4 linked regions of the Homo sapiens genome follow. The protein of the gene in region 1 purifies or fractionates together with the protein of each later gene. This does not show direct contact. Each region holds a gene or a part of one and is shown in the gene's direction. Other genes may lie near its edges.

The links.
Region 2: the proteins of BMP15 (region 1) and PPP2R2D purify together in Homo sapiens (affinity purification with mass spectrometry, with the first as the bait; one large-scale study listed by BioGRID). This does not show direct contact.
Region 3: the proteins of BMP15 (region 1) and AMD1 purify together in Homo sapiens (affinity purification with mass spectrometry; 3 studies listed by BioGRID and IntAct, with this or other methods). This does not show direct contact.
Region 4: the proteins of BMP15 (region 1) and FAM20C purify together in Homo sapiens (co-immunoprecipitation; one large-scale study listed by IntAct). This does not show direct contact.

The regions. Positions count from the first base shown.
Region 1 is NC_000023.11:50,906,998-50,915,557, forward strand, and holds the start of BMP15 (bone morphogenetic protein 15 preproprotein), read left to right. Parts: upstream 1-3,737; 5' UTR 3,738-3,786; coding exon 3,787-4,114; intron 4,115-8,560. UniProt on the Homo sapiens protein: May be involved in follicular development. Oocyte-specific growth/differentiation factor that stimulates folliculogenesis and granulosa cell (GC) growth.
Region 2 is NC_000010.11:131,901,789-131,909,661, forward strand, and holds part of PPP2R2D (serine/threonine-protein phosphatase 2A 55 kDa regulatory subunit B delta isoform), read left to right. Parts: intron 1-7,873. UniProt on the Homo sapiens protein: Substrate-recognition subunit of protein phosphatase 2A (PP2A) that plays a key role in cell cycle by controlling mitosis entry and exit. Involved in chromosome clustering during late mitosis by mediating dephosphorylation of MKI67.
Region 3 is NC_000006.12:110,883,732-110,888,429, forward strand, and holds part of AMD1 (S-adenosylmethionine decarboxylase proenzyme), read left to right. Parts: intron 1-3,773; coding exon 3,774-3,860; intron 3,861-4,604; exon of another isoform or gene 4,605-4,675; intron 4,676-4,698.
Region 4 is NC_000007.14:241,109-248,101, forward strand, and holds part of FAM20C (extracellular serine/threonine protein kinase FAM20C precursor), read left to right. Parts: intron 1-5,306; coding exon 5,307-5,399; intron 5,400-6,993. UniProt on the Homo sapiens protein: Golgi serine/threonine protein kinase that phosphorylates secretory pathway proteins within Ser-x-Glu/pSer motifs and plays a key role in biomineralization of bones and teeth.

The DNA.
Region 1 (8,560 bases):
AAACTAGTCTATTTTATTATTTTCTACCATAAAATACACACAAATCTGTTATAAAAAGTTAAAATTTATCAAAATTTACACACCCACAGACCATACATGGTGCCATTCACAGTGAAGAGAAATGTAAACAAATGTAAAGATTCAGTATTAAATCATAACTGCATGAAATTACGTACCCACCTCCTCTTGCCATGGTGGTGAGCTCAAGTGTTGAGAGTATCTGCTTAAAATGCCACCATGTGATGCTAATCATCTCCCCTTGAGTGGTCTGCTTTAACAATAAATTGCATATGGAGATAAAAAGTGATCTCTCTTGAGGCTGCAGTGAGCTGTGAGCATGCCACTGCATTCCAGCTTGGGCAAAAGAGTGAGATTCTGGCTCAAAAAAGAAAAAAAAGCCATCTCTGGTAGTTCTCCTGTACGTTTCACCATGTACATTTCATCGTGTTTAGTGCAATACTGTAAACCATGAATAACACCGTGGGACTCACATGAAGTGCCACTACTGCTGCCAGAAGTGCTCCTAAAAAGCAAAGTCATGACATTCCAACAAAAAGTTGAATTGGTTAATATGTATCATAGATTGAGATCTGCAGCTGTGGTTACCTGCCATTTCAGACAGACGATGTAAAACTTAGAGTACTGATAAATACAGTACAATACTGTAAACGTATTTTATGTTTTTAAATCATTTTTTTGAGACAGGGTCCTACTCTATCACCCAGGCTGACTGGAGTTCAGTGACGCCTTTATGGCTCAAGCAATTCTCCCACCTCAGCCTTCTGAGTAGCTAGGACCACAGGTGCATGCACCATCTTGGCTAATTTTTGTATTTTTCATAAAGACGTTGTTTCAGCATGTTGCCCAGGCTGGTCTCGAATTCCTGGGCTCAAGCTATCCTCCCACCTCAGCCTTCTGAGTAGCTAGGACCACAGGTACATGCACCATCCTGGCTAATTTTTGTATTTTTCATAGAGACGTTGTTTCAGCATGTTGCCCAGGCTGGTCTGGAACTCCTGGGCTCAAGCAATCCTCCCTCCTTGGCCTCCCAAAGTGCTGGGATTACAGGTGTGAGCCACTGCCCCTGGCCTTAAAATCATTTTCTTTTCTGTGGCTTACTTCATTGTAGGAATACAGTATATAAAACATACGACATACAAAATATGTTAATTGATTGTTATCCATAAGACTTCTAGCCAACAGCGGACTATTAGTATAGTCATCCCTCCTCTCTGTATACATGACAGATTGATTCCAGGACCTCCTGCAGATACCAAAGTCTGCACATATTCAAGTCGCGTGCAGTCTATTTTTCAAAACCCACACATACAAAAAGTCAGTCCTCCATGTAAGCGGGTTTTGCATCCTGAGAATACTGTATTTTTGATCCATGTTTGGTGGGAAAAAAAAAACGTGTTTAAGTGGGCTCGTGAAGTTCAAACCCATGTTGTTCAAGGTTGACGTGTAGTTAAGTTTTTGGGGAGTCAAGTTATACCAAATTCTGACTGCATGGGAGATGGGGGGGCGAGTTAGCACCCCTAACCCCCATGTTGTTCAAGGGTCAACTGTATTGCCTCTTCCAATATGTTGTAAGAATAAGTATTGTTTCAGAAAAGATTTACTTCAAGGTATATATGCGTGTGTGCTTGTGTTTGTAATGGGTAGCAATGTAAAATGTATTCATTTTTGTAAGTCACAGACAAAAGTATCTAAAACTGCTACTGCTTTAGCAATAGCATTGCTGAATTGTATATCTTCAACCTTAACAGAGATAATGCCAGATTGCTCTCCAAAATTATTATACCAAATCACACTCTCAACAGCAGTGTGAGATGTTCCATATCTCTCTATATAGAATCTCTCTATATAGAATATCTATATAGATATTCTATATATTATACCTATGTTCCATATCCTCACCTGAACTTAATAGTGCCAGACTTTTAATGTGCTATCGATCCATTTAATGTGCTATCAATACTGGGTGTTGAATAGTATCTTAATGTTGTTTTCAGTTGCGTTTTTCTGATTTCCAGTACATCTTTTCATACATTTGACCATCTAAATTTTGCCTATTGTGAATCATCTGTTTATATCCCTTACTTGTATATTATACAATACAACCCTCACAACAGCTCTCTGAAGGAGCCAGCAGTATAGATGAAGAAACTAAGTCTGGGAGAAATGTTGCTTAAAGTAACCCAGCTAATGAGTTTTTGAGCTGAAATTTGAGTCCAGATGTAGAGGACCCGTAAACCTATGCCTTTTGTTTTACACTACATGCCAGGGCCCAAGGTCATGTTAGAAAAAAAAACAGAGGAAGAGCACAAATAAATTTGAACATGTAACCCTATGTCTTGTGTCTAATTAGGCTTTGTGCAATTAACATAGATTATTTCCTTGCTTCCTCACAACAACCTGTGAGGTAAAACGTGTTATCTCCATTCTACAGATGAGAAAACTAAGGTGTAGGGAAGTGAAGAAATTTGTCTTGGAAGGGTTAAATTACAGCTAGAAATTTGCCTTGGAAAGGTTAAATTACAGCTAGGGACAGAATTGCAACTCAAACACAGATCTGCCTGATTACCAAGTCCACGCCTGTTCCACAGTAATGTCTGTCCATAGATACTCCTGGTGTAAGGTAAAGGCCTCCCACAAATCAAGCCTGACTCATCATCTCCTAGAGCCAGGTCTTGACCTGCTTCCCCAGTTTCTCTCCAGATCCCCATATGTTTCTACTTCGGTACGGCCAGGACTATACCTACTATCTTTCTGCAGAATAATGGTCTGAGGCAGCCTTAAAACTGGCCGAGCCCTGCTGCTTCACATTAACCATCTGGGCTAGGTTAGCTCCCATAGATTACTCTTCCCCTTCCTCAGGCTTCTCTAATGAAGCCCAATAAGGATCTCAACACCTTCCAAGGTAAACCAGAAAATTATAAGTCAGAGTCCTTAAACGTGGCTGCACATTAAAATCACTTGTGAACTTAAAAAAATCCTGATGCACTAGTTACAACCCAGGCCCATTACATCAGAATGGTACCCAGGCATTCATAATAGTTAAAGCTTCCCAGATGATTCCAATCTACAGCCAAGATTGAGAACCACTGTTACGGCATCTTCTTCAAGCTCCAGCAGCCATACTCAGTAGTTTCCACATTTTAGGTTTTCATAGGAACTTCTTGGAGCACTGGTAAAGAGCCAGATTTCTGGACGCCATCCCAGAGAATCCTGGTTCAGACCCAGGAGTCTACATTCTTAATAATCACCCCAGATAGTTTCACTGCAGATTATTAGCAGACAATATTTTGAGAAATGCTGCATTAGAGGCATGGAAGTAGGATGGGAACAGGAGGCCTCTGGCCCTTTAAGGATGGATTAAGGGACTACTTTTAAGGCTGTAGGGGCAAGTAGGATCAGGCTGCTTTTTTTCATTCTAGTGGATAAGTTAAGGAAGTGGGTCCTGAAATGGACCTCTCCTTTTAAGTTACCTGAGCCTCTCAATAGGTACTATCTTGTTCTCAGCCCGGGAGAGCGGGAGGGGCATGCTGCCTTGTCCCACCTTCTGTTTCTGTTTCTTTTGATGCAAAGAGGCCAAGTTATGAGGCAACTTTGGTCCAGGAGATCCTCTTAGAGAAAGCAACATAGGGCCTGCCTGCCTTTCTTTTTCTTGCCCCATCCTTGGTTGTGGAGCCAGGATGCAGTTATCTGCATGAAAGGAAATGGTCAGAGTGACGTCCCTTGGGCTTGTGTTGGGGCCTGTTGTTGAACACTAAGCCTTTCAAGATGGTCCTCCTCAGTATTCTTAGAATTCTTTTTCTTTGTGAACTCGTGCTTTTCATGGAACACAGGGCCCAAATGGCAGAAGGAGGGCAGTCCTCTATTGCCCTTCTGGCTGAGGCCCCTACTTTGCCCCTGATTGAGGAGCTGCTAGAAGAATCCCCTGGCGAACAGCCAAGGAAGCCCCGGCTCCTAGGGCATTCACTGCGGTACATGCTGGAGTTGTACCGGCGTTCAGCTGACTCGCATGGGCACCCTAGAGAGAACCGCACCATTGGGGCCACCATGGTGAGGCTGGTGAAGCCCTTGACCAATGTGGCAAGGCCTCACAGAGGTGAGTTGTTATGCCCCCATACTGCCCTGGAAGGGAGAGAAGTGGAGAGGAGTGTAGAGAAAAGGGAATTGGTGGGTTTACTGTCAGGCTTTGTTGCCTTGTGGGCAGGTTGTTTCTTTAGGCTTGGTTTTCAAAGGATGGCAAGCTTTGGAGAAGCCAGCGCCAAGCCTACTTCCCTTTAGGGCATCAACTTAAGAACAGATTGCCTTGGTGCCTACTGAGAAATCTTTCCCAGGCCCCAGGACAACTGAGTGATGTGCCATCACCTATCTTTCACAGAAACTTTTATTGCTTGTGATAGTTCTGAAAACTGTAGAGACATATCCAGCTATATTCTTGTGGAGGGCTATTTAAGTGGCGTTTTGCTCTTAGAGTACAGCTTGCTGAGTTGGGGAAACTTATAAGGCCTCAGAAAGGACATAAATAAGCTTACATCTGAGGGTCTGTATACCTGGCTCTGTGAACATGTGCTACTGTATTTCTTAATGAAAGCTACTATCTTAACTGTCTTGATGCAATTAGCCTAATTTTAAAACTAAGGCACGGAGAGGTTAAGTAACTTGCAAATGGTACACAGATAGTGGGTCGCAGAGATGGGATTGCAGCTGAAGTCTGTCTGATTCTAAAGTCTGTCGGTAACTTCTTAAGTCTTTAAATGCAGTATTCCAATATCCTTGTACCCCCAATAGTTTTTCTACTTGGGCCATATTGCTACTTTGGGATTCTGGGACTAAGTGTATTTTGGAACTTTTTTTTGTCCCCATCATGCTTGATTTTGCTTTTAACATTTGCATCAGACATTGTTGCAGGACAACAGTGGGCTATTGAAGTGTAGGACTCTCTAGAGAATGCAGACAGTCATCAACTTCAAGGAATTCTTGGGAACCTAGTGAGATCAATCTGTAGCCTTCACTAGTCTGAGATGAAAAGGGACAGGACTTAATCCCCTCCCCAAGCAAAACAATAAATATTCTCGTACCTAACCCTTACTGTGAGATTACTGTGTGCCAGGCATTGCACAAAATGTTTTATAAACATTATCTTAATCCTCACAACTACCAGATTAGGTAGTATTAACATGCCTACTTGATAGGTGAAGAAACTGAGGATCAGAGTCACTTACCCATGTCATACAACCAGTAATTGCTAGAGCCAGGTATCAAACCCAGGCTCTCAGGCCCAAAGCCTGTGTGTTAATCATCTTGCTGTTCTGACTCCCCACTGGATTTTAATTGAGTGCCAGGCAGTGTGTTTGGGTTGGGTATATAGAAGCAAATACTTTTCCGACCTCTAGAAGTTCCCAGTATAGTGGAATGGATAGATAATTACATAATAATGTTACAGTATGCCAAGTGCTTTGGAAAGGACAAACAGTAGGGCTCCCAGGACCTATGAGAAGAAATGGCTCATTTCTTGAAGTGAAGAGACTGTTGGAAGGCCTCATGGAGGAGGTAGTACTTGAAACTGACCTTGCAGAAGGAGCAAAGAGGTCATGCATTGAGGCAGATAAGTGCATTCTGATTTAGGAAAGAGAAAATGGTGTGGGTAGAGATTCATTGAACAAATATTAGGTGCCAAATGTTGGCACCTACTGAGTACTAGGCATACAGATGTGATCAAGATAGGTAAAACCCCTACTTTCATGGAACATATGTTCTCGTAGGGGAGACAAATAAGCACACACAGTTAAATTGTGAATTGTGGTAAGTGCTATCAAAGGATGAAGTAGGTTGTTAAGATAGAGAATGGCAATGAAACCTTCCCTTTCCATGGACTTGTCAGGGAATGTATCTTTGAAGAAGTGCCATTTGAGCTCAGGTCTATAAGATAAACTAGGCATGAGAAGAGTAGGGAGAAGCCTGATTTAGGCAGAGGAACAACAGGTGCAAATGCCTAGAGGGTGAAAACAAGTTGGTTCCAATTGAAGAACAGAGGAAAATCAGTATGGCTGGATCCTCATGAGCATTGTGGGAAATGGCAGGGTATGAGGCTAATGAGAAGCAGGGACTTGTAGGCTGTGATAAGGGATCTGGATCCTAAGAGCAGCAGAAAGTTGCAAAAAATCAAGCACTTTGGGAGGCCAATATGGGAAGATCACTTGAGCCCAGGAGACTGAGACCAGCCTGAGCAACACAGGGAGACATGTCTCTACAAAAAATAAAAATACATTAGCTGGGTGTAGTGGTGCACACCTGTGGTCCCAGCTACTCACGAGGCTGAGACCAGAGGATCATTTGAGCCTGGGAGGTTGAGACTAGAGGAACATTTGAGCCTGGGAGGTTGAGATTGCAGTGAGGCATGATTGTGCCACTGCACTCCAGCCTGGGTGACAGTGAGGCCCTGTCTCAAGGAAAAAAAACAACAACCCCACAAATTAAGAAAAAATTAGGCTTGTACAGATGATGTGAGGCTAGAAAGGAGGATGCCTAGAATTAGACATGTATCCTGGTCTCACTGTGGAATATACTGGTATCTAGGGACTGTGGAAAGGATCCAGAGACAGATGACAGGTTCAATCACACAGGATGTGTGATTCAGCCCTTTCCCTGAAAAGCTTTGACCAGACCCTTCCTGGCTCTGATTCTTAGCAACCCCATCCTGCTTCAGGAAACATGTGATGTCAAGGTCTCAAAGAAAAGGGCAGTTCCTCCCCAGACAGCCTGCTAGAGGTTTGGGTTGAGTTCCTTTATAGCCAGGGTGGAGCAGGTTTAAGGGTGGGCCTCTAAGAAAGATTACTGTAAGATGGGAGTGTGGAATAACTTGAGAAAGCAAATACAAGCCTGGCTTGGATTTGTGTGAATAATGTCTAGTGCGCCAAGCCCAAGGGTATATTAAGCATGAGTTGGAATTTGACCTTTTATTTTACTTATTTTTTTGAGATGGAGTTTCGCTCTTATCATCCAGGCTGGAGTGCAGTGGCACAAACTCGGCTCACTACAACCTCTGCCTCCCGGGTGCACGCCATTCTCCTGCCTCAGCCTCCCGAGTAGCTGGGATTACAGGTGCCTGCCACCACGCCCGGCTAATTTTTTGTATTTTTAGTAGAGGCAGGGTGTCACCATGTTGGCCAGGCTGGTCTCAAACTCCTGACCTCAGGTGATCCGCCCGCCTCAGACTCCCAAAGTGCTGGGATTAGAGGCGTGAGCCACCGCGCCCAGCCGGAATTTGAACTTTTAAAGATATTCTGGGGCTGGGTGCAGTGGCTCAAAGGGCGGCTAATCCCTGCACTTTGGGAGGCCAAAGGGGGCAGATCGCTTGAACCCAGGAGTTCGAGACCAGCCCGGCAACATGGCAAAACCCTGTCTCTACAAAAAACAAAACAGAAAAAGCTGGGCATGTTGGCACATACCTGTAGTCCTTGCTATCCATGGGGGCTGAGGTGAGAGGATCTCTTGAACCTGGGAAGTCAAGGCTGTAGTGAGCCATGATTGTGCCACTGTACTCCAGCCTGGGTGACAGAGGGAGACTCTGGAAAAAAAAATTCTGGAACATCAAGATGTAAAAGAACTTCTGTGTTAAAAATGCCACATCTAATGAAGAATTCCAGGCTTGTGGATTCAGTGGAGAAGAAGGACTAGGTGAATAAATACAAATTAACATGGAATTATTTACTGATAAGATGTCTGAAGATGAGAGGTGGCTTTTTCCTGTGGTGCCAGGCTTTTGTAATCTTTGCTCTTGACCTTCGCCGGGAGGGGGTGCAGAAGTTTGGAGCACCATGGATGTAACCTTTCAATCCTTTGGCCGTTGAGTGTCAGCACTACAGTTTGGATTAAAGCTCTTATTCACAAAGCAGCATCCAGCTTTTAGTAGACTTCTCAGCAAACAAAATATTTATGTGATCAAGACTGTGTTGAAAATAGTATATAGAGGAATAGTGGTAAAATGAATGGGGTAAATGGAGAACAATTTCCAGCAAGGAGTGGTAAAGAGAGAGATTAAGGGCCAAAGGAGGAAAAGATGCTTAAGAAGCAATTCTTGAAGTAGATGGAAGGCAGAAGTGGTAAGATAGCTGTCTGTACTAGAGGATGATAGACAAAATTATTTTGTAGTGCCTTGGTCCTGAGTTTGAAATTATAGCAGGCCATAGCACCCAATACTGAATTGTTGTCCCAAAGCTGCATCTGTATAGTGATATGACATGAGACTCTTTCTTAATCCATGTATGTTTCAACAATTCTAAATGGACACATTTAATGGTCAACTAATAATAATATTGATCTTCTCCCCTACATACAGTATGCACACAAGATAATTCTATATTTGAGTTTTTTCCCCCGAGCCCAGCACTGTAAGTAATCTAACAGTGAGACAGTTTCTCTTAAGAAAAACAGACTTGGGTTCAAATCTTAACTCTACCACATACCAGCTGTGTGTCCTTTGTCATAGCTTCTCTGAGCCTCAATTTCCTTATCTGCAAAATGGGGATAATAACTATCTCATAAG
Region 2 (7,873 bases), on another chromosome or scaffold:
CCCACCAGGCTCTGCGTTTCATCGGCGGTGCGCTCTTGAGCGAGCTGGTTGCCTCGGCTCCCTGATTCTTAAGGTCTGCTTTCTGCGGTTCTAAAATCCTTGAATTTTACTGTGAGGTACTGCTACTTTCTCTACTGATATATTTTAAGGTCTCTATTCCAGATTTTAGTCTTGAACTTCATGGTATTACTTGAAGTTCACTGGTCTTTTCCTTAAATCATACTCTCAAATTGGCCCAGGCACAAAGTTTTAGGGTGGTGGGAGGGAACTGGGAAGTGCCTCCCACCCCAGCTTCCCATGAAGCTTACCTGTCACCTTAAAGTTAAAAAGCTATGTAGCTTTCCTTTTTCACCGTTGAATGGAGAACTTGGTCGAGTCTTAGAAGTTTGATTAATATTTCAGATTCAGAGTCATAGTGACTTTTTTGTTGTTGTTCATACATCTTACTGAACATTGTAAACCTTTAACCTTTTCTTAAAAATGATTGGTGTTTGCACCAAATACACCTTCCCTGCCTCAAGTTACTAAAAGCCCCTTGTCAGACGTCCTGTTCACTTCCCTCCATCTCGGCCCCCCCAACCCCGTGAACTTTTACTCCCTCTTCCCTACCCTGTACCTCTCCCTGGCAGTGTCTGGTTTGGCACATGACCCCTGAGGACATCTGGAGATTCTGCGCCCCCTGGGACAAACAGGGCCTAGGTTATTAAGCAGGTGAAACTGGGCTCTAAGAAATGCGTAATATATATGGTTTGAGATTAAAACTAGGTGCATTTTATGTGATCTAAAAAGTTTATTGATTTTATTTCTTTAAAATGCATTACTTTTTTTGTTTGATTTTGCATATGCTAAGCAAGTGACAGTTCAGCCTTACTCAAGTGTGATTTCTGTCGCAAGTAAAGCAAAACTTGTTTGGGAGTAGGAAAGTGAGAGGGCTTAATGCTTGCCTTAATTTCTGTTAACTCTTTATTTTGTTTTTTGGAGACAGGGTCTCACTTTGTAGCCCAGGCTGGATGGAGTGCAGTGGTGCGATCTGGGCTCACTGCAACCTCTGCCTCCTAGGCTCAAGCGATTCGCCCACCTCAGTCTCTGAAGTAGCTAGGACCACACACACGCGTGCACCACCACACCAGGCTAATTTTTGTATTGTTGTAGGGGATTTCGCCATGTTGCCCAGGCTGGTCTTGAACTCCTGGGCTCAAGTGGTCTGCCCACGTCAGTCTCCCAAGGTGCTGAGATTATAGGCGTGAGCCACCGCACCTGCCTGGTTTCTTTACTTAAAAAAAAAAAAATTATTGATAAGCTGAATGAATTAAAATTTAAGTATAACTAAGGTAGTATATTTTAAATGTGACTGTACACATATGAAAATAGTATTCTTTCTTTAAAAAAAATCTTGGGCCGGGTGTTGTGGCTCATGCCTATAATTCCAGCACTTTGGGAGGCCAAGGTGGACAGATCACTTGAGGTCAGGAGTTTGAGACCAGCCTGGCCAACACAGTGAAACCCCGTCTCTGCTAAAAATACAGAAGTTAGCCGGGCGTGGTGGCACATGCATGTAATCCCAGCTACCTGGGAGGCTGAGGCAGGAGAATCACTTGAACCCGGGTGGTGGAGGTTGCAGTGAGTGGAGATCGTGCCATTGCCCTCCAGCCTGGACAATAGAACAAGGCTCCATCTCAAAAAAAAAAAAAAAAAAAAAAAATCTTGACAAATACTTTGTTCTCTGAATTAAACTGATGGGAACTTTTTGCAGTTTTAAATCCCTATTTTAAGTTAAATTTTGAGTAAATCCAAAAGTTTGGTATTTCGAGTTGTCGTGGTTTCTTTTGTAACATTGCTTTGTGGTAATTATCTGCATGTGTTTTGGTTATTCTGTGTATTCAGAGCTGTCTATTTTAATCCATGTATGCTTTGGCCATAGTAACCCATCCAGATTAACACATTTATAAGTCACCATCGATTTGTCCCATAGTTGTGATACCGTTGCTTTGTATTAACACCAGAGAGTCAGTGATGATGAAGGGAAGTGTAGTCGTTAGTCACCAGGGATTGCTGAGCAGCAAGGATCAAGAAGCTGGTCATGCCCAAACGCAACCTTGAGGGAGAGATGTTGGTGAGAGATAAGAGATGGGTGGCTGGGTACGGTGACTCACACCTGTAACCCCAGCACTCTGGGAGGCTGAGGCGGGTGGATCACTTGAGGTCAGGAGTTTGAGACTAGCCTGGCCAATATGGCGAAACCCCATCTCTACTAAAAATACAAAAATTAGCCAGGCGTGGCAGGGCCGGCCTGTAATTCCAGCTCCTCAGGAGACTGAGACAGGAGGATTGCTTAAACCTGGGAGGTGGAGGTTGCAGTGAGGCGAGATGGTGCCATTGCACTCCAGCCTGGGCGTCAGAGCGAGACTCCGTCTCAAAAAAAAAAAAAAAAGGAGAGAGATGGCCGGGCGCAGTGGCTCACGCTTGTAATCCCAGCACTTTGGGAGGCCGAGGCAGGCAGATCACAAGGTCAGGAGATCGAGACCATCCTGGCTAACACGGTGAAACCCCGTCTCTACTAAAAATACAAAAATTAGCCGGGTGTGATGGCGGGCGCCTGCAGTCCCAGCTACTTGGGAGGCTGAGGCAGGAGAATGGCATGAACCCGGGAGGCAGAGCTTGCAGTGAGCCGAGATCGTGCCACTGCACTCCAGCCTGGGCGACAGAGCAAGACTTTGTCTCAAAAAAAAAAAGAGAGATGGGCAGTTCACAGGGGTTTTTATCGTGCACTGCTGCTCAGGCTGTAGAACTTAAGGTATAGCAGATTTTGTTTGTTTAGATTTGTGGCTTGTGAGGCATTTTGTTCTTGAAGGTTTTGTTCTGGGCCAAGTTCAGCTCTGTAGAGCTTTACTACAGCCCTGCACTCTGGCCGTCTTTCTGCCCTCTCTGCAATGGGTAAGGAGAAGGAGCCTTAGAGATTAAGGCCTGGGTCCTCTCCTGACTTCAGTGGGGTGATGCCCAGTGCACAGGAAGTGGTGCAGGGCTAGGAGTAGGCACTCCTGACTTTGGAGGTCATGAAGTGAGTGACATAGAAAAGCCTTTGGTTTTTGTTTTGATTTCTGTTTTGTTTTTAAAACTAATAGTTTTGGGCTGGGGAATCAGAATCAACCTATGGTGAAAGTGCTGGCCTATGTAAAATTTGATGCGCACCCCACCCCCCTTTTTTTTTTAAAAGAATTGGGTTTAGCTATGGGTCAGGTCATTTTGCTAAGAGTTGTGATTCCACTGGGTCATCAGACTTCCCATCCCCCTGCAGGTAGGAGTAGAGCTGAGCTCACAAGGAAGTTATTAAGTGTCCTGCTGATGAGCAGGTGTATAAGCAGCAGTCAGTGGTGACTTGCATCTCCTCCCTTTGCTGGAAGGTGGGACTAGGTGAGTTTATATGCTGAGTTGACCAAGAGTTAAAATAGTAAAACCAGGGGGCTTCCAGCAGGAAGCAAGTAGAAAAGTTGTTTGTTAGCTTCTAATTCCACGATGTTGCGGTTCTAAACGGTGGCTCCTTTCTGGAAATTGTTAACTGTTGTGCAGATTTTTTCTGCATGTTATGGAATCACCTTCACCCAGCCCCTGCTCCCTCTCCTGGAACGTACTTCATTCAGCATGTGATGTGTTTTGCAATGTCACATGGTATTTCATCCTTTGCTTCTCTCTCTGGTAGACTGAGCTCCTCAAGCTTGAAGGCTGGCTGTCCCCCTTCCCACCCCAGCCCTTGTAGAGGACCCAGCACGAAGGTCATGATAGGTAACAGTTGCTGAGTGGTCATTCTGTGCTAGAGATTGCTCGCAGTGCTTTTCCTATGTCAGTGAATCTTCACACCACCGAAGAAGGAAGGAAATACTGTTCTTCCCAGTCTCAGATGCAGAATCCGAGGCGTGGGAGCAATTAACCTGGGTCACAAAGCGAGTGTATGGCAGGGCCAGGGTTTGGAGCCACGCCGACTGGCCGCAGAGCCGTGGAGCGCTGTACTGCTTCAGCGACCATTTGCAGCCAGCACAGTACTGATGAAGCCCCACTGTGGCATGCGGCCGTCCAGCCTTGGGATGGAGCTGTTCTTCTAAAGCTCGGTGAAAATCTTACTACCAAGAGGCGTGTGAAAATGCTTTTGAAGGCAAATGAAAATGGAATGCCTTTAAAGGAAGTCTGTGTCAAAATGATAGAAGATTAGTAACAAGGATTCAAGAATAGCATCACTTTCCAACCAATTCTCAAACTATTTGAAGAGTAGATACCACAGAGACAGTAAGTAAGTGAAACACCTGCACGTCAAGCAAGTGCTGCAGCACCTTTGCCTGTGATGTCACTTTCCACATGACTGCAACCTGCTTACCTGCAGGGAAGCTATGGGTCTTGCTCCTTTATATATTACACTAATTGCTCCTATGGAGAAACCGTGGGGAGGGGTTGGGGGAGGAGGGTCTTATATTGAACCTGGTTTTATATAGCTTTATAGCTTGATAACAGCTGGTTCCTTTCTTCTCAGAATTTGTAGTTTTAAGTGTATTGGGGTTTTATTTGTTGATTTTGCTTTAATCAGTTTCTTAATCCATGATCTGTTGCTTTGAATTAGACATTAACCTGTTTCTAAAGAGATAGACTAAACAAAACTAAAGGTTTGTTTGCTTAAGTCAAGCTTGAGTCTGGGGAGTTATGTAAGTAACATAGATATCTGGTTAATCTGGTAGGATAGCCTTTCCAAGGGAGTTTACATTGGTACTTTGAAAGAAACATTTTAAGTCGCAGAAAGGTAACAAAAATTAAGTTAACTGTAGCATCAGCACCAGAAAGTTACTGTTTCATTGAATGTAAGATAATGTCTGGCTCGGTGGCTCACGCCTGTAGTCTCAGCACTTCAGGAGGCCAAGATGGCAGGATCCCTTGAGCCCAGCAATTTGAGACCAGCCTGGGCAACATAGTGAGATCTTGTCTCTACCAAAAAAAAAAAAAAAAGAAAGAAATTCGGGACGTTTGCCAGGTATGGTAGTACACACCTGTAGTCCCAGCTACTCAGGAGGCTGAGGTGGGGGCATCGCTTGAGCCAGGGAGGTTGAGGCTGCAATGAGCTATGATTGCACCACTGCACTCCAGCCTGGGCAATAGAGTGAGACCTTGTCTCAGAAAAAAGAAAAAATAATAATAATTATATATGTATATATATAATCTTTGAAATTAGGTGTGTCTTTTATATATAATCTCCTATAATGTCTTTTATATGTATATATAAAATCTACATCTAATTTCAGAGATACTAAGATGTGGGGAAATGTACTTAGAATCAATGAAATACGGTGTTGGTGAATGCAAAACTTGTCAGTCATATTTATTGATTTCTTCTGTGTACAGATAATGGGCATTTGGTATTTATTCATTTATATTTTTTTTTTGGTCTTAATGGGACATGGTGTCTGCTTATTTGAATTATTTCCGGTCTGATTTCTATATTCCATTGTAGAATTTTCATTTACTTAATATTTATATCTGTGCCATTGAAGAGAACCTTCAGGAAAGCATCCTCTGGGGAAGGCCATCAAACAAGCAAACAGTCTAGTAATATTTTGCAGTTTGACTTATGAGAGCTTCATAGGAAGCCTCTGCCTTTAGGAAGTCAGTTGTATGCCTTAAGATTCACAGACTCGCCGGGCGCAGTGGTTCACGCCTGTAATCCCAGCACTTTGGGAGGCCGAGGCGGGCGGATCACGAGGTCAGGAGATCGAGACCATCCTGGCTAACAGGGTGAAACCCCGTCTCTACTAAAAAAAATACAAAAAATCAGCTGGGTGTGGTCGCGGGCACCTGTAGTCCCAGCTACTGGGGAGGCTGAGGCAGGAGAATGGCATGAACCCAGGAGGCGGAGCTTGCAGTGAGCGGAGATCACGCCACTGCACCTCCAGCCTGGGCAGCAGAGCGAGACTCCATATCAAAAAAAAAAAAAAAAGATTCACAGACTCATCATGCTTAGTACAGCCACATCTTAACGCTCAGGAGGCTGGCCTGGTCATCGTTACATCGTGAAGTTAAGTTTACAAGATATGTGGTGGTATTGAATCATACCTGGTGATTTTCCACGTTCCCTGATTTTAAGCAGTCTGCTGTTCTGATGGGAAGTTCCAGGTTGGGTTTGTGTCTGCTGTTTTCAACTCTGAGGGCCCCTTTCTGAGCTTCAGCTCGCTTATCTAGAAGTTAAATCAGAAGCTTTTTGTTAAGATCAAACAATGTGCAGTGCTGTTGCAACTTGAAAAGTGCTTTTCAAGTATTAGATACAACTGTTAATTCTCTTGTATTTTAAAGTATTGGGGCTTGGTTTTAGCTATATTTAAACACAAAAATAGCAGTTTCTTGTTTTTCCTTACCTGCTTCATGTCCATCTACCCAGATCCCTTCCACTGGGCCTGGCCTCTTAATGTTTACGTTATTATTCAGTGATTATTCCCATCCCTTGATCTTTGCTCCTGTTTCTTTCTTTGCCTAGAGTATTTATTTTGCTTCCTGTCCATTCCCTAAGCCCTGCTGATCCTTCTAAATCCACCTCCAATCCCACTTGGCGAGTCCCTGCTCCAGCTCCCCTCAGCGTTCAGTGTCGTCTTAGACTCCAGATTTCCCTTTCACACTGTGTTCCATGTTGTTTAGCAATTGGCTGTGTCCTGCTTGTGGTTCCCTTATTTTATCACATGTATTATTAGGCTCGTCTCTCCCACTGGATGTCAGTCAGCATATGGAATGTCATGATATTACCAGGTGATGGAGAGGAATTGTGCACGTGGAATTTGGTACACATCCCTTTTTCACCCTCTTCAGGCTTTGTGTTAACTTGGGAAGTTACTTACTCTTTTCTCATCTGTTAAACGGGTACTATTACTTGTGACCATTACAGGGTTGCTGTGAAGATTCCAGAAAATGTATGGAAAGCTCTGACAAACAAACACGTTAACTGGTAACTGTTCAGAGGCTGTTGTCTTAAGAGACCCTCTTGCATAGGAAAATAGCTGACTCTGTCACTTCAGGGAGCCAGTTTAAGAAAAATGAAGGGTAATGCAGGGGCCAGCTTTCAGCTTGGCACATCTGAAAAGTTCACGACAGCATACCAAAGGGCTGCTAGTGCTGGCTGTTGGAAATAGAAATGCAGTTCTTGCCTTCAGGAAACGCTGTTTGGACACAGACAAGCAGGTGGGTCCTTGCACCATGGCTGGACCAGAGCACACTGAGGCAATGTGAAGAAGTACCCAGTACACAGACTTGGGTAGGGAGTGGAGGGGAGGACATCAGGGTATAAGAAGAGGGAGGAAGGGAAGGGGAGGAGAATGTTCCAGGTGGAGAGTGCTTGGTGTGGAGGTTGGACAGAGCATGGTATGTTCTGAGAGGTCAGTGCTTGGCATGGTCCTCTGGCAGAAAAGGGAGTGGCTGTGATGAGCAGGAGGCTGGCTGGGGCCACAGGATGATGAATAAAGGACTTGAATCGTGTGCTCAGGACTCTGAGTGATTGTGAGCTTTTCAGATCCTAAGCGGAGGAGCGACATCAGCTTTGTTTTTAACAAGGTCACTCTGCCCTTTGGAGAGTGGATGGTGGTGGGTAAGAATGGAGATAGGAAGTTACTGCAATAATAAAGATTGGGAAAATGGGCTTACTCTAGTTTCGGGGTGGCCAAGCTTTTTTGTAAAGGGCCAAATGGTAAGTATCTTAGACTTTCAGGCCATCCTGTCCCTGTTGCAACGACTGAATTCAACTCTGCCTTTAGCAGGAAGACAGCCATAGACCCTGCAGAGATGGATGGGCGTGGCTCTGTGCCCTGCTTCCACAGGAGCATGCCTACAGAAAACAGGCAGCTGGCCAGATGTCGCC
Region 3 (4,698 bases), on another chromosome or scaffold:
CAGGTGCCCGCCACCATGCCCAGCTAATTTTTTTTTTTTTTATTTTTAGTAGAGACGGGGTTTCACCTTGTTAGCCAGGATGGTCTTGATCTCCTGACCTTGTGATCCTCCTGCCTCCCAGAGTGCTGGGATTACAGGCGTGAGCCACTGCGCCCGGCCAAAGCCCTATTTTTATAGGTAGTGGATGAAGAAGAGTCCTTCCCCTATCCCCTATGTGAGTCAGGCATTGTCAGAGAGATTATGGAAGGTTGAAGAAAGTAAACCTATAAAGTTTTATATGAACACTCCTTAGCCATTTTGCATGGATCTGACCCTAAACAGCACATCAGAGGCTTTGAAAACTAGAATACACAATAGACTGCCTCTCCAGGGCCAGCCTGGCCATTGGGTGGCAAATAAGTGGGGCAGATGCAAATAACATAGCAAAGGAGTTCATAACAAACCTGACACTGGAACCATAACACAACCTAGAAACATTGAGTAAAAACTTGAAGCCTAAACCAAACCAGATTGTCTGCTGAAAGTTTTTAAAAATCAAGACCTAGAATGATGTAACATGTCAAAATATCCAGGATGCCATCCTAAATTAGTCAACATACTCAAAACCAGGAAAATCTTAACATCTCAAAGGAAAAGACAGCAGACACCAACCTCAAGGTGACATGGACCAAGACTTTAAAGTATCTGTGCTACAAGTTGTAAGGGTGAATACTTTGTTTTAAGAGAGGGTCTTGCTCTGTTACCCTGGCTGGAGTGTAGCGGTGTGATCATGGTTCACTGCACCCTCCATCTCCTGGGCTCAAGCAAACTTCCCACATCAGCCTACCGAGTAGCTGGGACTACAGACCTGCACCACCACTCCCAGCTGCCTTTTTTCTTTTTAAGAGACTGGCTATTGCTATGTTGCCCAGGCTGGTCTTGAACTTCTGGTCTCGTGATCCTTCCTTCTTGGCCTCTGAACCACAGTGCCTGGCCACAACAGCCTTTAAAAAAAGAGAAAACAAAAATAAGAAAGGAAAAGACTGTTACACTGTTTAGTTCAGCCATGGAACGTGTTTAAAAGTCTTAATAGAAATGGTGAATATAACTGAGAAAGGGAGGGTGGGATTTGTTAGTGCGTCCAGTGGGTAAAAAGGAGTATGTGCAAGAATAAGTTATAGTGGGAAGTCAGTAGGTGATGACTTAAGCAGGTAGCATTATTGATGGACCTGAATTAGATAAGCTCTTTAAAAATCTGAAATTGTAATGTTTCTAATACTTAAATCATAGTGGATATTTTTATTTACCTTCATATTCAGGAATGGGAGTCTTAATAGTAGATAATTTTTGCAAGGATTTTGTAAATTTATCTTAGTCAAGTGAAGCAGGATTTCATTCCCACGAGTAGTTTGTTTATTTTTTTGAGATGGAGATTCACTTTTGTCGCCCAGGCTGGAATGCAGTGGTGCGATCTCGGCTCACTGCAATCTCCATCTCCCGCATTCAGTCTCCTGCCTCAGCCTCCAGAGTAGCTGGGATTATAGACGCCCACCACTACGCCCAGCTAATTTTTTGTGTTTTTAGTAGAGATGGGGTTTCACCATGTTGGCCAGGCTGGTCTCAAACTCCTGACCTCAGGTGATCCATGCGCCTCGGCTGCCCAAAGTGGTGGGATTACAGGCATGAGCCATTGTGCCTGGCCAAGTTTTTGTTGTTTTTGTTTTGTTTGTTTGTTTTTGAGACGGAGTCTCCCTCTGTTGCCCAGGCTGGTATGCAGTGGCAAGATCTCAGCTCACTGCAACCTCCACCTTCAGGGTTCAAGTGATTCTTCTGTCTCAGCCTCCCGAGTAGCTGGGATTACAGGCGTGTGCCACCACACAAGCCAGGGGTAATTTCAAGGGTTGTCACAGTATATATCCCACATATGTATTCTTTCCATATATGAACAAATTGTTAGCACCCTTTTTAAAGAACCTTAAAACTTTTTAGTAGCTCTTTTAAAAAAGTTGCTTAGTCATGTTATAGTCTAATACAGGAACTCAGCTCTGTAATCATTAGCAAGCCTTTCACATTAAAGATTTTTGGATGGGTATTGGTACGCAGATGGGTCAGTAACAGTTTCTTGTAGCAAAATGGTGAGACAGGCACAAAATTCTACCAGGCATGTTTGGTGTTGTGTTTGCTTTTTAATACAAACGAATAAAAACATTTTGCTGTTGGATTTCGCTCAAAAGGTCTTATCTGGTTAACAAAAGATTTGCCGGCTGGGCACGGTGGCTCATGCCTGTAATCCCAGCACTTTGGGAGGCCGAGGCAGGCGGATCACCTGAGGTCAGTAGTATGAGACCAGCCTGGCCAACATGGTGAAACCCTGTCGCCACTAAAAATACAAAAATTAGCCAGGTGTGGTGGCACGTGCCTGTAATCCCAGCTGCTTGGGAGGTGGAGGTTGCAGTGAGCAGAGATCATGCCACTGGACTCCAGCCTGGGTGACAGAGCAAGACTCAGTCTCAAAAAAAAAAAAAAAAAGATTTGCCATTTTTATGAGTGTAGAGCAATGGCCTGTCAGATATCATAAGGCTTAAAAATTTTTCTTCTTTTTTTAAAGACCAGGGTATTACTCTATCGCCCAGCCTGGTCTCAAACTCCTGAGCTTAAGCCATCCCAATCCCAAAGTGCTAGGATTACAGGCGATTCTCCTGCCTCAGCCTCAGCCTCCTGAGTAGCTGAGATTATAAGCACCTGCCACCACGCCCGGCTAATTTTTGTATTTTTAGTAGAAACAGGGTTTCACCATGTTGGTCAGGCTGGTCTCAAACTCCTGACCTCAAGTGATCCACCGCCTTGGCCTCCCAAAGTGCTGGGATTACAGGCGTGAACCACCACGCCTGGCCTAAAAAATATTTCTGGCAAACAGCTGGGCATGGTGGCACATGCCTGTGGTTCTAGCTACCTGAGAGACTAAGGCAAGAGAATTGCTTGAGCCTGGGAGGTCAAGGCCGAAGTGAGCTGTGATTGCACCACTGCACTTCAACCTGGGCGACAGAGTGAGACCCTGTCTCAAAAAATAATATCTGTCATGTTAAGCTGTTCCATGGAATTACATTGTCTTTTTATAATGGGCACACTAATGAAAGAATGAACACTTTCCTAATTCTATTCTCAGGCAAATTAAGACTAGTTTCTTCATGTCCATATGACCTTCATTGCTATGGTTGCTTGTACTGCACATTTCCTGTTAAACGGGCTTTCTCATTGCATTTGGAGAGCTGCGTAGTATTCCCAAAATCTTCTAGGTATGCTTGTAATTGGCAGTCATTCCAGTTTTTTGTGAGTGCTATAAGAGTAACATCACTCACTGTGTCCCGACAGACAGGCTTTTAAATTTCTATGCCAATTAGATTGGTAAAATTATGCTCTTCTTTTTTTTTAAGTGTTTCTTAAGGTTAAAAATCTGCACATTTTATAGACAAAGTATCCCATTGAATTTCTGTAATCATTGATTAGTTAATGGTTTACCTTGGTTTATGGACCTTTGAACATTTTTTTGCCTATTTTTCTTTAAGTAATTTGTAAATACATAGTATAATGACCAATTTTTGTTTCATATATAGCATAATATACCTATCATTTATCTGGGTGTGTCAATATAGATTATTTTGAAAGAAACTAAAAGTTGGTGTACAATATTAATTAAAAATGTGGTCTTCATGAGAAAAAGTGTGAGCTTTGTAATTTTTATGAGTAGGTGGGTACTATTGTGGATTAATCGTAACTTTTTTGTTAAATGATAGATCTGAGTGGGACATACTTTTGAAGGATGTGCAATGTTCAATCATAAGTGTGACAAAAACTGACAAGCAGGAAGCTTATGTACTCAGGTAAGTCCTGTAAAACAAGTGTTAGGTAGCTAATTTCAGTCCTAATCATAATGTGAAACAGTTAAGTTCCTCTCAGTTGTAGTTCTGGGGGTTTTTTTGTTTTGTTTTGTTTTTTTGAGACGGAGTTTCAGTCACCCAGGCTGGAGTGCAATGGCGCCATGTCAGCTCACTGCAACCTCCGCCTCCTTGGTTCAAGCAATTCTCCGGCCTAAGCCTCCTGAGGAGCTGGGATTACAGGCACCTTCCATCATGCCCGGCTAATTTTTGTATTTTTAGTAGAGACGGGGTTTCACCATGTTGGCCAGGCTGGTCTTGAACTCCTGACCTCAGGTGATCCATCCACCTCGGCCTCCCAAAGTGCTGGGATTATACACGTGAGCCACCGCGCCCAGCCTTTTTTTTACATTATTCTTAAAAATATGGTATAAAAGGAAACATTTAGTGTAACGTGGATGTTTCTAGGACATAGGTTTTGAAGCCTCACCGGACAGTTCAAGGTGTTTGCCGTCTTTTCCTCCCAATTGGTAAAGAAGGACCTCTTAATTAGAAGTTCAGGCAAAGGGAAAGTTAGCTTCTCTATACAAATACAGTTGTCTAATTGGTATATAAAAGCTCATCACCTTTTTTGTAGTTGCAGAGTTAATTTATTCCATAAATACTTTTAATGCTTATAGTATATATTGTGATGGGCCTTGCTGGGGGATACTGGACTAAACAGCCCCTCCCCCCCTTTTTTTTTCTGAGGCGGAGTCTCAGTCTGTCCAGGCTGGAGTGCATTGGCGCAATCTCCTCTCACTGCAACCTCTGCCGCCCAGGTTCAAGCGATTTTCTTGCCTCA
Region 4 (6,993 bases), on another chromosome or scaffold:
TTGGAAGCTGCTTTCTTCCTTGCCCCTGGGGCTGCTCCCTCCCTGCTTCCTCCTGCTGGGGTCACCTGGGTCTGGCCCCTTCCCTGGGGCTTTCAGCCCAGCTGTGGCAGGAAGTGGCCCGAGGGCCTCGGGAGCGGAGCCCAGAGTAGAATTCACTGCCTGCTGCCCTCTGCCCGGGAGCAGAACACAGGGTCAGATGGGAGCCGCCAGATGGGATGTGCTTTAATGACCGGATTTGTGCAGGTGACTCAAGTCAGCAAGTCGTTCGTCTTCTGCGTGAGCTTTGAGTCTCTTTGCAGGGAGGAAATCAGACTCCGCCTTTTCAGGGCCACTAAATGCGCTTTCCCAGCCAGCCCCGCTGCAAGGCTGTGCCAGGGAAAGATCGATGGAGCCGGGTCTTAGTCCCCTTCTCACCAAGAGGCCTCCGACAGCACTGTTCTGTGGGGGTTGTGTGTGTGTGTGTGTGTGTGTGCACTCCTGCGAGTGTGCATATATGTCCATGCACACGTGTGCATCTGTGAGTGTGCGAGTGTATGGATGCACATGTGCATGAATGTGTGTACGCACATGTATCTGTGCACATATGTGTGTGCACACGTGTTAATGTGCATCCACTGTGAGCGCCCGTGTGTGTGTTTCTGAGTGTGCAGGTGGGTGTGTGTGCATGAGCGAGTGTGTGTGCATGTGCACACGTGTGAATGTGCATCTGTGTGTGTGCCCGTGTGTACGTTTGTGAGCGTGCAGGTGTGTGTGTGTGCATGAGTGGGTATGTGTGTGTGCATGAGTGTTCATGTGTGCATGTGCACACGTGTTAATGTGCATCTGTGTGTGTGCGTGCGTATGCATACTGTAGTGGGTGGTTAGAACTAAACCACTCAGCATCCAGGCCCAGCCCCATGCCAACGCTCAGTGGACATTGCCTGGGCCAGCCCCTCCCTGGGCCTCAGTGTCCCCAGAGGCCCCCTGCGCTCTGGCAGGCCTGGAGAGCTCTGCGGGGACATCCCATTGTACTTCGCCTGCTACTGAGACGTCCACATCACCACACGGTGAGCTCCTGCAGTGTACCAGGCCCTGTGTGTGCCCGTCCCGCAACAGCTCTGGGAGGCAGCTGCTCTTTTTCTCCCTCTGGGGTTTGGAACCTGGGCTGGCGAGGGTCAGTGGCAGCAGCAAGATGAACACCCAGACCTGGAGATGTGCTGTCTGTGGGTCCGGGGACGCGGATCTGACAAATGCCCTTCTGCAGGCCTTGTGTGTACAGGGCAAGGGGCGTCCGCAGGACGGAACGATTCCAGAGGGTCTTCCTGGAGGCGGTGGCCAGGACAGTCCTGACTGAGAAAGCAGAAGGAGGAGGGTGGGAAGGGAGGGCAGGCTGGGCTGCAGGCTGGGGAGACAGCACTGTTCGGTGCACTGGGGGCAGGGCCAGTGAGCTGGGGGAGGGGGTGGACTCGGCCCCCTCCATCCTGGCCAGGGAGCGGGATGGACAGTGGGCAGACACCAGAGGCCTCAGAAGGCCCCATTCTCAGAGCTGCACTGCACACCACTAGCCAGGTGTGCCCATTAGATTTAAGATAAAATCAGACTTAAAACTCAGTTTCTGGAGGCTCTGGTCACATTTCGAGTGTCCCACAGCCATGTGTGGCCACTGGCTGCCGAGTTGGACAGCGCAGAAGGTCACGTCCATCACAGAGGAAGCACCGATGGACAGGCCAGGCTGGGGGTGAGGTGACTCCAGGTGCCCACACCAAGGGGCAGGCTCAGAGGGACGTGGAGTGGCTGTGTGTCCAGGGGACCTGGCCAGGGCGAGAACAGCTGCCCCCCAAGACAGTACCTACAAGAAACCTGTGCCACCCGGGATACCTGTGCCACCCGGGATACCTGTGCCACCCGGGAGACCTGTGCCACCAGGAGACCTGTGCTAACCAGGAGACCTGTGCCACCCAGGAGACCTGTGCCACCCGGGAGACCTGTGCCACCCAAGAGACCTGTGCCACCCGGGAGACCTGTGCCACCCAAGAGACCTGTGCCACCCGGGAGACCTGTGCCACCCAAGAGACCTGTGCCACCCGGGAGACCTGTGCCACCCAAGAGACCTGTGCCACCCGGGAGACCTGTGCCACCCAAGAGACCTGTGCCACCCGGGAGACCTGTGCCACCCGGGAGACCTGTGCCACCCAAGAGACCTGTGCCACCCGGGAGACCTGTGCCACCCGGGAGACCTGTGCCACCCAAGAGACCTGTGCCACCCGGGAGACCTGTGCCACCAGGAGACCTGTGCTAACCAGGAGACCTGTGCCACCCGGGAGACCTGTGCCACCCAAGAGACCTGTGCCACCCGGGAGACCTGTGCCACCCAAGAGACCTGTGCCACCCGGGAGACCTGTGCCACCCAAGAGACCTGTGCCACCCGGGAGACCTGTGCCACCCGGGAGACCTGTGCCACCCAAGAGACCTGTGCCACCCGGGAGACCTGTGCCACCCGGGAGACCTGTGCCACCCAAGAGACCTGTGCCACCCGGGAGACCTGTGCCACCCGGGAGACCTGTGCCACCCAAGAGACCTGTGCCACCCGGGAGACCTGTGCCACCCGGGAGACCTGTGCCACCCAAGAGACCTGTGCCACCCGGGAGACCTGTGCCACCCGGGAGACCTGTGCCACCCAGGAGACCTGGGCGCCGCCTCTGCAGTGGATGTCCCAGGAGCTCAGTTTCCTAGCGGCTTTATCAGGCACCCAGTGGTGCAGGCCTTTGCTCCAGGGGCCTACAGTGAATTCTGACTGCCCAACTGATAAGTAGCTGAGGATTTTCTAAAGAAAATAATAATAATAATAATAATAATAATTATTATTATTATTATTTGGAGACAGGGTCTCACTGTGTCATCCAGGCTGGATTGCAGTGGTCACTGCAGCCTTGGCCTCCTGGGCTCAGGTGATCCTCCCATCTCAGCCTCCCGCGTAGCTGGGATCACAGGTGTGTGCCACCACGCCCAGCTGATTTTTTTATTTTTCGTAGACCTGGGGTCTCACTATGTTGCCCAGGCTGGTCTTGAACTCCTGGACTCATGCTGGGCCGTTCTGGGGAGTCACTGTGCAGACGTAAGGCTCGAAGTTTACAGAAAAGAAATCTTGCCTCCATCTGGAGTTCCCTTTTTCCAGCTGAAAGTTACTAAAATCTAGTAGAACTAGTGTTCTGTGGAATGAGTTTTGCTCAAAGCCAATCCTTCCAAGTTGAAAACAACGAAGGCTTTTTAACCTCAAAAATATCCAACACTCCAGAATTTACCACCCCTGGAACTGCGGGCTGACTGCAGCGGACCATTTGGTTTGACCTTTAGTGTTTTAGAAAAATGAAATCCATTTGCCAGCGCTTAAAACCCGGGAGATTCCACAAGGTCTAGATTCTTTCTCTTGAACCTCAGGATCCCGGCCAGTCTGGGCCTCGGCTCTGCAGGGCGACCCTGGCGGGCAGCATGTTCAGTTTGCCGCCATACCTGCCACTGCCCTGCCCTGCACCCCAACCCTCCTTTGCTGCTGGTTTCAGAAGTGCACAGAGATAGCAATGGCCACAGACCCAGTGGGGTTATGAAGCAAATGTGACCTTCAGGCGCCAGCCCACCATCCGCATTTTATTTTTAAGTAGCTCCTGGAATCCTCATCTGGCCTTGCGCCTACCCAGGGCCCTGTCAAGGCGAATATTATGTGGGATCGTGGAAAGTGGTCTGTTCTCAGAGTTTCTAGCAGCAGAGACTAGTTCTTAAAAAGGCCGTGGGTGGTACACATCTTTAACCCCCCATAAGAAACGTTCCGGGAACACGGAGAATTGTGGCCACAGCTTTCTGAGAACAGCGTGGGAGGACGGGAGCCACGGGCTGGTGTGTAATTGACGGCCTGTGACCCAGACGTGGTCCCCCCGAAGGGACGTGGACATGACATACAGGACCTGTGCCCCACCCCGCTGTTCGTGTGGCGATGATGTCGGCCCGTGGCAGGGCCAGGATGCTCCCAGGAGTTGGGCGGACCTCCGCTGCGTATATGGAAGGAAGGACCCGGCCGGGGAAGCCGAGGGCTGGGAAAGTGACCGGGGCGGCGTCTGTAGTCTGCATTGCTGGAGTGTTGGAGCCCAGACGGAACACAGTCTGCCCTGAGTGGGAGGTGTGGGCTGCAGGGCGTGCGAGCTGGGGATTCCCGCCAGCTCTGGTTTCCAGCACCTGGAAAGGTCACCAGAGTTTGAATCTGGTAAATTCTTCCTGGATTGGGGGCTGAGTTCCCTCCCTGGGCCTGGCATGGGAGGACATCCTGGGACGGGCTCTCCTTCCAGTGGAGGCAGGGGCCAGCCTTGGTGGAGGAAGCCTGGGTTGGAGGCTGAGTTCCCTCCCTGGGCCTGGCCTGGGTGGACGCCCTGGGACAGGCTCTCCCTCCAGTGGAGGCAGGGGCCGGCCTTGGTGGGGGAAGCATGGCAGGGGCCGGCCTTGGTGGAGGAAGCATGCTTACACGCTTACACGCTTACGCGCTTACACACTTATGCTCAGACACGACCTTGACAATTCCTCCACGTTTCCACCATGACCACATCGGTCAAACACTTGCGTGGACCGGCACCTCACAGGGCCCTGCGGCTAGGCTCCCCTTCCCCTGGAGTATTGGCCTGAGATACAGGAGCCCTATGGTGTTTACAGAATGGCACTGACCTTTCATAAACAGCCCCACCTGTGGCCTCCTGTCCCTTGGCCAGGGTGGAGGGACAGGGCGGTGCCCACATTGCCCTTCTTGGGCTCTTACTGTGGGAGGCGTCCACGGCAGAGCCAAGGGGTCCTGGAGGCCGTGGGGGAGACTCGGAAACCAGAGGGTGGGCGGTGCCAGGGTGCACACAGCAAACCGGGGCTGAGCCAGGCCTGGGACACCGAGCCCAGCCTCTCCCCTGCGGTGTGACTGTGGGTCCCAGGGTGGACGTGCCGGGGCCCCCAGCCAGTGCAGGAGAGGCCTTTGAGCAGCTTACCTGAGAAGGGCCCATGGGGAGCTGGGACCTCCGGCCTCCGTCGCAAGGGCCTGCGCTGCTCTGAGGGCCCGTCGGCAGCTGGGTCAGGGCCACGGGGAGCTGGGACCCCCGGCCTCCGTCGCACGTGCCTGCGCTGCTCTGAGGGCCCGTCGGCAGCTGGGTGCCCAGGGTCCCGAAGGCTCAGGGTGGCCCTGAGGAGGCTGGAGCTCCACCGCATTTTTCATATGAGGAACCCAGCACGTCCCGCCTGCCTCCGGCCCCTGGAGGCTTTCTCAGTGACAAACCGTTTCTGTTTCTGTCTTGTTTTCTCAGACAAACGAGGGAGCAGGAGACACCCCCTGACTTTTTTTATTTCTCTGACTACGAGAGGCACAATGCGGAGATTGCTGCCTTCCACCTGGACAGGTGAGCCCTTCCTTCCTCCCTCCATCCGCGCTCCCGTGCGCTCAGACCCACCGGTGAGTGAGGCCGTCCTGCACTGGACACAGCAGGACGTCATCGTCACCTTCGTCACCATCAGGCAGCGCCGGTGCCTGCTCTCCCCCCACCCCGAGTGCTGCCCTGAGCAGGGTCCTGTATGTCATCGTCACCTTTGTCACCATCAGGCAGCGCCGGTGCCTGCTCTCCCCCCACCCCGAGTGCTGCCCTGAGCAGGGCCCTCTGTGTCATCGTAGCCCACACAACACGCGGTAGGGAGAGCCTTTCATATCCCCCTTTACAGATGAGAAACTGAGGCTCTGTGAGCGGCGATTTGCCCAGGTTCCCACGCTCCTAATCATCCCTCTGTCACCGAGGGAGAGGGCGCCTGCCCTCAGGGCACCTTAATCCAGATGGGCCCCTCCTGCACCCCCACAGTTCAGGCAGATGGGAGGCACAGAAGCTGCTGTGCGGTCGGTAATAGAGGAAAAGGAAAGAGGGAAGGAGGCAGGGAGGGAAGGGGGAGTATTAAGTGCTGCGAATCTTAACACAGAGACTCACAGAGCACAGGCTTCTCTGGGAGACCAAAGCAGGCTTCCTAAGGAGGGGGAAGCGATGTTTGTGATGAGGGGGCCTGGGAGGCCCCACGGTCGCCTGTCTCCAGAGGGGCCGCCCCAGCCCAGCAGAAAGTGAACCCCTTGTGAGGGTCAGCTTGGCCCTGCTGCTGGGAAAGTGGGGGGTCCGTGTTCAGTGCCCTCCAAGGGCAGTAAACGGGCCTGGCCCAGGTCCAGAGGGGCCCCGTGGATTGAAGGACCTTGCCCTGGTGCAGTGGAGGGAGGAGGCGCCACCCTCAGCCCCCAGAGCCTCCCTGCCTGCCCTGCACGGCCCTGACACGTCCCAGCCTGGGGTGCGGCCCCAGGGCCGGCAGCATTGGGGTTGCCCTGGGCTAGTTGGAATGCAGAGTCCTGGGCTCCACCCAGACCTGGGACAGAATCTGCATTTTAACAAGATCCCTAGTGACGCGGGCGTACATTGGAGTTTAAAGGGCTTTTTTAAAGATCAAAGTCTTCTGTGGTGACTATAGAAATCGCCAGAAGCCAGATTTTCCACCATTTCAGCTATCTAGAACAGCCTGAACCCAAAAAGGGCTTTTTATGAAAAGAAAGACGGGGAGGGTCATTAGGAAACAGCCCCCCTCGGGTCCACCTGTTTATAAAACAGGACACAGAGCCCAGCACCCAGGCGAGCCGTCTGACAGGTGGAGGGGGAGGGTGCTCCACGCAGAGGCGTGGTCGGGCCTTGGGTCCCGGGTCGGCCCTGGCAGACGGCCCACGTCCCTCCACACCTGGTCACCTCGCCTCACAGGACAATCACCACGTCCTCCGTCAGCAAGAAAAGCTCTCGCCCTGCATTCTCCATTTAATTAAGCGAGTGGGAGCCTGTGGTGTGGTTCAGAAGGAGTTCCATTAAAAGTGGCTCCTTTAATTTAATTTTGTTTTAAATTTAGCCCTGGAATGAGGGCAGGCTTTAGCTATGCAGGCAGTTGGTGCTGTGTGCCCATCAGTGAGGCATCGCCAGCCCC